Regions from separate parts of the Homo sapiens genome. Here region 1 is linked to region 2. Evidence: fine-mapped expression QTL. A gene starts in region 2. The other region holds a variant in brackets. All regions are shown on one strand. Distances are between the middles of the regions. Region 1 overlaps UBE2L3 (ubiquitin conjugating enzyme E2 L3). Region 2 holds the start of CCDC116 (coiled-coil domain containing 116).

Evidence for each region. PIP is the estimated chance that this variant, and not a neighbour inherited with it, causes the effect. A credible set is the group of variants that fine-mapping cannot tell apart.
Region 1: its variant is the best candidate, but not a certain one, in a credible set for the expression of CCDC116 in spleen (GTEx, PIP 0.54).

What each region holds. Positions count from the first base shown.
Region 1 is chr22:21,602,479-21,607,847 of GRCh38, reverse strand. The region is part of intron 2 of UBE2L3 (ubiquitin conjugating enzyme E2 L3); the gene reads right to left. Among named protein-coding and RNA genes, the nearest start is that of YDJC, 25 kb to the left of the region's middle. The variant A/C (reference allele first, on the strand shown) is at 3,265.
Region 2 is chr22:21,630,092-21,635,394 of GRCh38, reverse strand. It overlaps CCDC116 (coiled-coil domain containing 116), which reads right to left and starts at 2,635. Exons shown (of 5, transcript NM_152612.3): 1 at 2,568-2,635; 2 at 2,142-2,275; 3 at 825-1,373; 4 at 129-710. The coding sequence starts at 2,213. RefSeq lists an enhancer at 2,404-2,903 and a silencer at 5,147-5,303.

The sequences.
Region 1 (5,369 bases), 28 kb after region 2:
TGGACCCTGGGGACCTGAGCTGGTCACTCAACAGGTGATCACCAGGCAGGGCCAGCACCATGCCCTAGCCCCTTGCCCCTAGAACCACCCGAAAACCACCTTTGGGGCCTGGACACTCTGATGGCCCCAGGAGCCTGAGAGATGACTCAGCAAAGAGTCTTTTGGCCTCTCCCCAACCCTACCTATCTCCAGAGCTGGGGAAGCCCTTCCCATTGTACTCCCTTTTCCCTCACCCAGGTCTGCCATGGCACTTGCCATGGCACACCCAACCCAAAGAAATCCAAGCTTCACAGAGAGCCCAAGAACAATCTTTTTTTTTTTTTTTTTTTTTTTAAGACGGAGTCTCGCTCTGTCGCCCAGGCTGGAGTGCAGTGGCGCGATCTCAGCTCACTGCAACCTCTGCCTCCCTGGTTCATGCAATTCTCCCACCTCAGCCTCCTAAGTAGCTGGGATTACAGGTACCCGCTACCCTGCCCGACTAATTTTTTTTTTTTTGTATTTTTAGTAGAGATGGGGTTTCACCATGTTGGCCAGCCTGGTCTTGAACTCCTGACCTCAGGTGAACTGCCGGCCTCGGCCTCCCAAAGTGTTGGGATTACAGGAGTGAACTACTGCACCTGGCCCCAGGAACAATCTTGACAGCCCTACACCCCAGCCCCATATCTTCAAGCCGTGGCCTAAGTACGCACTCCAGTAAACAGAGCTCCTCTGCTGGGGAGCAAGGCTGGCGTGCGCCAGTTCTCCACATTCTCCTACATCCAAGCCCTGCCCTGGGAGGGGAGGCATGGAGCAAGGGCCTTAAAGGATGGATAAGATGACATAAGGCTGAGGAGTGGAAGAGGCCTCCCAGGCAGAGAGGACTAAAGACTAGATGGCAGGGACTTGGAAGGAATAGCATAGAGCAAGACAGGAGGCTGCGGGCAGGCAGTGTGGCCCCAGGGCTACTGAAGCCACGCGTCCAGGTCTGAATCACCACCGAGCAGCTGAAACCACTGTCAGCATATTCATCTGTGGGGAGTCACCCAGGCTGGAGTGCAGAGGTGCAATCACGGTTCACTGCAGCCTTGACTTCCCGGGCTCTAGCAATCCTCCCACCTCAGCCTCCCAAGTAGCTGGGACTACAGGCATATGCCACCACACTCAGCTATTTTTTTATTTCTTATAGTGATGGCGTCTCACTATGTTGTCCAGGCTGGCCTCAAACTCCTGAGTTCAAGTGATCCTCCCAAAGTGCTGGAGTGCTGGGATTATAGGAGTGATGCACCATACCCAGCCAGCTTTTAGTTTTCAAGAGGAGAATTAAATGGTGGTGGTGGTGGGGGGAAGTAAGTAAACATCATTGTCATTTACACTGCTTGAGCCATGTAAAAATAGCTTTCCCTCACTGGGTGTGGTGGCACACTGGGAGGCTGAGCCAGGAGAATCACTTGAACCTGGGAGGCAGAGGTTGCAGTGAGCCAAGATTGTGCCACTGCACTCCAGCCTGGGCAACAGAGTAAGACACACACACACACACCACACACACACACACATACCACACACACGCGCGCGCGCACACTTTCCTGCATGACTTTTGGTTGGTGAAATCTGCTAAAGGTCTTCACTGATTGTCCAGGACTGACCAACCTCCCCTGTTCCCCACTGTGGGCCAGGTCCTGTCCGAGGAGCTGGGGTGAAGCATGAATGAGGCCATCTGGCCCCAAGTTAGCAGGTCTAGCCTCAGACTTTGCCTCTTCCTAGCTTAAAGAGTCTGAGAATGTTCCTGTACATCTGTAAAATGGGAGTAGCAACAGCCTGTACCCAGAGTTTATGATGAGAGATAAGGACTATAAAGTCCTACATGCCTGACACATGGGCAAAGCTCAAGAGAAGCAGATTTGGCTGGGTGCAGTGGCTCATGCCCGTAATCCCAACACTTTGGGAGGCTAAGGCAGGAGGATCACAAGAGCCCAGGAGGCTGAGGCTGCAGTGAGCCATGATCACACCTCTACACTCTAGCCTGGGTGACAGAATGAGAACCTGTCTCAAAAAAGCCAAAAACAGACTGGGCGCAGTGGCTCATGCCTGTAATCCCAACACTTTGGGAGGCTGAAATGTGCAGATCACTTGAGGCCAGGAGTTTGAGACAAGCCTGGCCAACATGGTGAAACCCCGTTTCTACTAAAAATACAAAAATTAGCCAGGCGTGGTGGCACATGCCTGTAATCCCAGCTACTTGGGAGGCTGAGGCAGGAGAATCACTTGAACCTGGGAGACAGAGGTTGTGGTGAGCTGAGATTGTGCCATTGCACTCCAGCCTGGGCAACAAAAGTGAAAATCCATCTCAAAAAGAAAAAGAAAAAGAAAAAAAAGAAACCCTATCTATACTAAAAAAAGGCCGAGGCAGGTGGATCACGAGATCAGGAGATCGAGACCATCCTGGCTAACACGGTGAAACTCTGTCTCTACTAAAAATACAAAAAATTAGCTGGGCGTGGTGGCACGCACCTGTAATCACATCTACTCAGGAGGCTGAGGCATGAGAACTGGTTGAACCCAGGAGGCACCGGCTGCAGTGAGCCAAGATCACACCGCTGCAGTGAGCCAAGACTGCACCACTGCACTCCTGCCTAGGCGATAGAGCAAGGTGTTCTCTCAAAAAAACAAAACAAAACAAAAACAAGTCCTTTTGTAAAGACAGGATCTCACTTTGTTGCTAACAATTTTTTTAAATTAGCTGTGCGTGCTGCTGGTGCACACCTGTAGTCCCAGCCACTCAGGAGGCTGAGGTAGGAGGACTGCTTGAGGCTATAGTTTTAAGTTGTTAGTTGTTAAGGCTGTAGTGAGCCATGATCACGCCACTGCCTTCCAGCCTGGACAAGACAGTGAGATCCTGCCTCTTTTTTCTTCCAAAAAGAGGAAGGAAAAAAAAGAAGCAGTTCTGTTACTACATGAGGCAGGCCAGGCCTCTCACCACCCAGGGAACTTGGCCAAACTCATCTGAACTTCTCTGGGCCTCTTTCCTAGTCTGGGGATCTGTGGATGGTCAAAGGAGTGGCTCAGGTGTGCATAAGTCACACAAACTATGTGCCTGTCCCAGAGATTTTTGGTGAAAGAGGCATGCAAAAATTAAAACATAAGATATACCTTCCGGGTAAAGGCCTACAGCTCTACAAGTGAATTTCAACATTAGAGCTAAACTTGCCCTTTGGGAAGGCCACTCAGAAATAACAAGGGATGTTAATGAAAAAACATGGTTTTGTTGTAAAAAATATATATATTATA[A/C]AACATTGCAGAAAATTTGCCTCCAACTTAAGCTGCAACATTTCAATGTCAAATAAACCAAAGATTTTAGCATTATCTATTTATTTAGAGATAGAGTCTCACGCTTGCCCAGGCTGGAGTGTAATGGTGGGATCTCAGCACTGCAACCTCCGCCTCCCGGGTTCAAACGATTGTCCTGTCTCTCAGCCTCCCAAGTAGCTGGGATTACAGGCGCAGGCTGCCACGTCCGGCTAATTTTTTGTATTTTAGTAGAGACGGGGTTTCACCGTGTTGCCCAGGATGGTCTTGAACTCCTGAGCTCAAAAATCCACCCAAGTCAGCCTCCCAAAGTGCTAGGATTACAGGCGTGAGCCACTACGCCCAGCTGATTTCAGCATTATCTTCACATGAACACGACTAGTGTTTTTCTGTTATGCCTGCCTTTGACTGTCTTGTGCTCCCTAAGCTCATACTGCTGTATTGAGGAAGTCATTTGAGATGTAAATTAATTCCTTATGATAATTTTACACACTCTAAACTAGTTCAAAAACTTAAACTCCAGCACTTTGGAAGGCCGAGGTGGGAGGATTGCTTAAGCCCAGGAGTTTGAGGCTGCAGTGAGCTATGATTACACCACTGCATTCCAGCCTCGGCAAGAGTGAGACCCTGTCTCAGAAAAAAAAAAAAAAAAAAAAAATCAAAAAACACCTTTTCAATCCATGTCTAAATTCTAGGACAGACTTTTTATCCACTTGTCTTTTTTTTTTTGAGACAGAGTCTGGCTCTGTCGCCCAGGCTGGAGTGCAGTGGCGCAATCTCGGCTCACTGCAAGCTCTGCCTCTCATATCATTCTCCTGCCTCAGCCTCCCGAGTAGCTAGGACTACAGGCACCCACCACCACACCCGGCTAATTTTTTGTGTTTTTAGTAGAGACGGGGTTTCACCGTGTTAACCAGGATGGTTTCGATCTCCTGACCTCATGATCCGCCCGCCTCAGCCTCCCAAAGTGCTGGGATTACAGGCGTGAGCCACGGCGACCAGCCCACTTGTCTTTTTTTTTTTTTTTTTTTTTTTTAAGACAGAGTCTCGCTCTGTCACCCAGGCAGGAGTGCAATGGCACGATCTCGGTTCACTGCAGCCTCCACCTCCTGAGTTCAAGCGATTCTCCTGCCTCACCCTCCCAAGTAGCTGGGACTACAGGCATGCACCACAACTCTCAGCTAATTTTTTTGTATTTTTACTAGAGACAAGGTTTCACCATGTTGGCCAGGCTGGTCTCGAACTCCTGACCTCAGGTGATCCGCCTGCCTCGGCCTTCCAAAGTGCTGGGATTACAGGTGTGAGCCACCGCACCCGGCCCACTTGCTATTTATAAAGAAAGAAAGATACCGGTTTTAAAGTGGATTTTCTTTTATATATAGTATGGCTAACATTTTCCTGTATTTGCTTCTAGTCATTATAATGCATGCATGTAAATAAGAGTTGATCATTTCAACCTGGGAAAGCCAATTTAAAAAAATTTGACCAAAGTTTCTCAAGTACTTAGATGCCAGGTGCTTTTCCGTGCCATCTCCAGCCCATATTCCGCCCCTCCTGGTCCCCTAACACCAACCCTGGGAAGCCAGTGCTGCCATCACTTGCATTTGGAAATGGAGCAAGTGAAGTACGATTGAGTGACTGGCCTGAGACCTCCCCTAAACTCAGCCTTCCTGTCCCGGAACACAACCCCCCACATCTGCAGGTATCCATCTGGGCCCATCCTCATCACCTTTGTGGGATGCGGGGACGAGGGGAACTGGCCCTTTTCTCGAGTCTTCCACCAACATCCAATAAATTGGCAGGACACCTTTTCAGGCTGCAAGTAGGGTAAAAATCTCAGATCCTTCACAGCTCTTGATATCAACCTCCCATGGCACAAAGCCATTTTGTGGCAGCTAAGACTAAGAGGAAGCTCTTTGCCATATGGCACCGAACTATCTGGGGTCTTTCACCCACTTGTCCTAGCTCTAACCCTGTGGTCAAATCTAATCTTCCTTTCCCATGGCAACCTTTCAAGAATCCTAAAACCCCATTCCACTTCATGTTTTCCCTTCCCAAGTAAAGACCCAGAGTCCTTCATCCCACAG
Region 2 (5,303 bases):
CAGGGCTGGGCCCTCTGGCTGGAGCTCAGGGAAACAGGTGGGTTTTGTAATTTGGGATCTGAGTCAGGTGCCTCCTCCCTGGAGTGGAGTGAGGGGCTGGGGACATTGGGCTTCTCCGTGGGTGTCACCTTGAGTTTGAATCTGGTGGCCACCTGGGCACTAGACATGGAGGGGGAGCCTCCTCTGTCCTTGCGTTTTCTCTGAAGCATCTTGGGGCTGGAGACTGTGGGGCGGGGGGAAGCATAGGGCTGCCCGCCATTGGTGGGTTTAGCTGGCTCAGAGCCCAGAGGCGGCAGATCTGAGGTGGGCTCCAAGCTGGTGGGGAACAGAGGACGGCCGTCGCGGCAGTGGGCGCCACGGAGCTTATCCACAGCCTGGCTGACCACGCTTTGCAGGGCAGGGAAGAGGCGGTGGTCAGCCAGGAAGTTCAGCGTGCGATGGGGCTCACGGAGCGGACAGTAGCCAGGCAGGTCGAGGGACTCCAGCTGGCTCAGTAATGACTTGATCTCCTTATTGAACTCTCGCTTGCGGAAGATTGGCTCCTGTTCTCCAGGCCTCGGCTCTGATGCTTCAGGCACGCCAGAGCTTGAGCCCAGCAGCCCTGAGAACCAGGACAAGGGCTGCTCCTGTGTCCACTGAAAGCTGGTCTGGCTACCCAGCGAATCCCACAGCAGGGAGTCCCTCTGGGAGCAGGACTGACTGAGGCCTTTCTGCAGAAAGAGGGTGACTCTGTGAAGTGTTCAGGAGCAGCCAAGCCAGGGCTGACCCTAGCCCTGGGCTCTCCATGGGAGTCCACCCCACCCAGCCATGGCCCTGGCTCTCACCCCTTCCCTCTCCAGCTGTAGCAGCCGCTTGAGGTTCTTCTCCAGCAGGAGTTTGTCCCTCACAGGTGGCAATGAGCCTTGGGCACCTAGGTCACTGTCCCGGCTGTGGGAGCCCAGACAGCCGGCCATGAGGCTGCTATGGCAGTTGGACATGGAGCTGGAGCTGGATGGGTAGTTGTTGGGGTGTCCAGTGCAGAGGGTCGGCCGTACACGGTGCCGGTGTACGGTGCTGAGGCTGGGCCGGGCATGTGCCCGCCGTCCACCACTTGGCACCTCCACTGGGTCCTGCACCTCCACAAGCGGCACCCCAGCCTCCGTCTTCATGGCAGCCATGCGCTCAGTCGCCTTCTCCACCACTGTCTCCAGGCTGTCCAGGACCTGGCTCTCAGTTAGGAAATCCAGAAAGTGGCCAAAGGGCTGAGGGTGCCTCTTGTTTCGGCGTTGGCCCTGGAGTGCTGAGCTGCCACATGTGGATGGTGGGTGTGGCACACGGCCCGGCTTGCAGGCTGGCCGCATTTCTGGGACCAGTGGCTTCTTGGGCAGCTGCACCTGAGCAGACAGGTATGTCACAGGGGGCAGGGGTGCCCTACAGGTGAAGGGTTCCCTGGGGTAACACTAGGACCTGGGTGGGAGTGAGTAGTGGAAGGAGCTGCATTTTGGAGTCTGGAAGCCCTGGGTTTGGACCCTGGCTCTGCCACCTACAGCCTGATGCCAGTGTGCAAGATGGCCCCTCTTGAGGTCCAATGTCCTCATCTGCAAAGTGGAGGTCTATTCAGGGTCACCCCGAAGCTTTCCTAACACCTACATTTCACACACACAAGTCCTGGCTAAGGAGTCTGCAAGCCTGCTTCTGCCCTGACACGTGGCAGGATGAGCAATCATGAATCTCTCGGAGTCTCCCTCCAGCTCCTCATCTGTCCATGCAGCAGGCCATCCCTGTATCCATGGCAGGGCTGCAAACAACATCTGAGGTCTTGAGTGCAGACAACACCTGAGGTCTTGAGCCCTGTGCTACCCGGGCCTGTTTCTCCAACTTGAGCCATAGGCACCTAGTCAACTCCATGCTCCCACTCTAGGGTCCCAGTCCACCCAAGCACCTTCTGGGTCGCTGGAAGTCAGGAGGAAACAAGGAATGAAATTGAGTGTGACAGGGGCAAGCAGTGGGGGACATAGGAGAAGTCAAGGCAATAAGGACTTCACTAAGAGGCCCAGAGAAGTCAATAGACAATGAGAAATGGGGGTTGTGGTCTTGGGTGCCAGGGTTGGTGGGGAACATGTTGTGGCCTCAAGGGTCGGCGCCCTGCTGGGCACACTTACCCGTGCACTGCACATGGAGTGGCTGGCCTCGTCATCGGCCAGGTAACCCGAGTGGTGGCGGCACCTGGCCATGTGGTCACCTGGCAGGTGACCGGGCCTGCTGCCCACCTCTCTCTTCAGCTGCGCATTCCTCTCTGCGTGGGGTGGGGAGACAACCTGAGGGTCTCCAATAGGTCCACGCATCTGTGGCCCTGGAGTCTGCGGGTCCCTCGCTCCCCGCACCCCGCCTCCTTCATGCATCCAGCCCTTCCTCTGCTCCATGGCCCCCATGCGTCTGCAGGCAGGCAGTTTCCAGAGTCATCGGGGTGGAATCGCTGAGGACAATCCTGTCTCCGATCATCTTTGGATCTGCGTGTGCTCGACCCGCCCTCCTCCCAAACCCTGGGCAACCTGGCTTTCACCCCAGCCCAGAATCAACAGACTCACCAGAAACACCGCCTTGCTCCGCACAGGCCAGTACAGTCTGCGCCCTCACTGGAGCAGCTGCACAGTGCGAGGAAGTCGGCTGGCGGCCTCCACTTGCTTATTTGCATACCACATCCTCATTGGTTCTTACCGAGGAGCTCGTCCACTTCCCTCTCCGACACAATGGTTGGGGGCGGGGCCCACATTGGCCCCACCTCCAATTCTCTGGGCTCTGCCCTCCCACACTCGCCTGGGAGCCGCAGGCTGAGGATGCTGGTGCCCACGCTCCCCGCTGCCGGGAGGACCCCCCACCCACCACCGAAGCTGGGGCTAGGCTCTTTGATCTGCTCCTGCCCCGAGGGGAGCCTAAAAGCCAAAGCCACGTCTTCCACCGGTGGCACAAGCACCTTCCTCGTGTCCTCCTTGGTTGCTGCGCAGCCCTGGGCCTCCTGCTCCTGTTCGTTTCCAGGGGCCTCTGCCCTTCCCGCGGTGTGCACAGCCCCAGGTTCTGCCTTGAGACCTCTCCCCTCTGCAGTGGAAAGAGTGCCGGCTCTAAGTCACAGACCTAGCTTCAGTTCCTGGCTCTGCTCTTTCCTGCCAATGTGACTCAACCTCTCAGCATTAGTCCCACACTGTAAATGGGCTTGAGTGTTCTTCCAATATGGGAGTATGGGATTCAATAAAATCTCCCTACAGCACACCCAGTAACCCAGTGGAGCCTTGTGTATTCTTTAATTAATTAATTTATTTATTTGGAGACGGGAGTCTCGCTCAGTCGCCCAGGCTGGAGTGCAGTGGCGCAATCTCGGCTGACTGCAAGCTCCGCCTCCCGTGTTCACGCCATTCTCCTGCCTCAGCCTCCCGAGCAGCTGGGATTACAGGGGCCCGCCACCACGCCCGGCTAATTTTTTTGTAGTTTTAGTAGAGATGGGGTTTCACCGTGTTAGCTAGGATGGTCTCGATTCCCTGATCTTGTGATCCGCCTGCCTTGGCCTCCCAAAGTGCTGGGATTACAGACCTGAGCCACCGCGCCCAGCGGAGCCTTGTATATTCTTACCTCCTCTCCCTCCCTCCTTTTCCCCTTTGCTCAGTAATACCCCACCATGGTGTCACTTCTTCCAAAAACCTTTTACTGTGAATTCTGCCACGCCCTACGCAATTCACAGTAAACCCCATTCCAGACTCTACCATACCATGTTGCTACTTATTTTTCTATCAGATGGTGCTTCTTTGGGGCCAGAACAGAGGCAAGTCACCCTTAATCTCTAATACTTTCAGTGTCTGGCACCAAGTAGGTGCTCAATAAATGTCAGTCTCCTCCTTCCCACCTGCAGACCCTCGGGACCTCTGACCTTTCCAAGATCAGCTTCCAGTGGAGAACGGTGGTTGGTTGAGGTCTGACAATTCACCAGTCACTATAAACACATCAGTCCTTATGCCAAGAGCATGGCTGAAGGACTCTATGAGGCTTTCAATCCTCACATGCCTCACGAAATATTGTTCCTCTCAAGCTCTGCTCTGTCCTCTCAGCTCTGGCTACCCACTAGGTCAGGGACAGAGAGGACATAGCAGGCCTGGGTGCTGGCCCCGAGGTGTGAGGTTCAGTCTTAGCTCCACTACTCCTGGCAGGACCACACTTTCGCTCTCTGAACCCCAGTTTCCTCATCTGTGAAACAGGAATGACATTACCAATTTCATAGCCCGGACACAAATACCACACTTTCCATGGGAAAAATCAAGACTGTCACATTGCAATGGAAACTGTGGCTGCCAACCATAATGACTATTTATACAGTCATGGGTAAGGAAAGCTTTTCTGGACCAAAGAGAAAACAGTGAAGTTATGAATGTAAAAGCTGTAGCCTGGCAGAGAGCTCAAGATGGAAACTGGAGATAATGTTTTCTCAAATGAAGCCTTAGTGTATATGCTTTCTTTCATTTTCTTAGTGTCTAGAGCTCAAGAAAAAAAAAAAATCAACAAATCAAGAAAATGCCTGCTCTTAGAAAAATCTGCAAAAGATCAATAGGCAATTTGAAAAAGAATAAAAATAGCTAATAATATGAAAATTTTCATTCGCACTGCTAAGAAACTACTAGAATGTGATAACATTGATATAATCATCTTTATGTTCTCAAAACAACACACAAAAAAGTTGGGTTGGGGAGAAAGGGAGTTGGGTGTGTTTATTTGCTTAGAGAAAACACTGGAAGGACACAACCCAGAAAGTTTACAATGGCAATCTCTGGGAAGGGTAGGAGATTCTTTTTTTTTTTTTTTTTTTTTTTTGAGACGGAGTCTCGCTCTATCGCCCAGGCTAGAGTGCAGTGGTGCGATCTCGGCTCACCACAACCTCCGCCTCCCGGGTTCAAGCCACGCTCCTGCCTCAGCCTCCCGAGTAGCTGGGATTACAGGCGCGTGCCACCACTCCCGGCTAATTTTTGTATTTTTAATAGAGACGGGGTTTCCCCATGTTGGCCAGGCTGGCCTTGAACTCCTGACCTCGTGATCCACCCGCCTCGGCCTCCCAAAGTGTTGGGATTACAGGCGTGAGCCACTGCGCCCGGCTTCCTTTTGATATTTTACATATTAAATATCACTTTTGCAGTCAAGGAAAGTTCCGCATTGCAATGAATCCATCACTGGTCTGGTTAGCGCGGGAGCAGTTGCCGGGTCCTTGCAGGGGCACGCCGGACCGCTAGGTGGCGAGAACAAAGGCGAAGTGCAGCCGCACCTGGGCGTGTGCGTCGGGGCGGGGC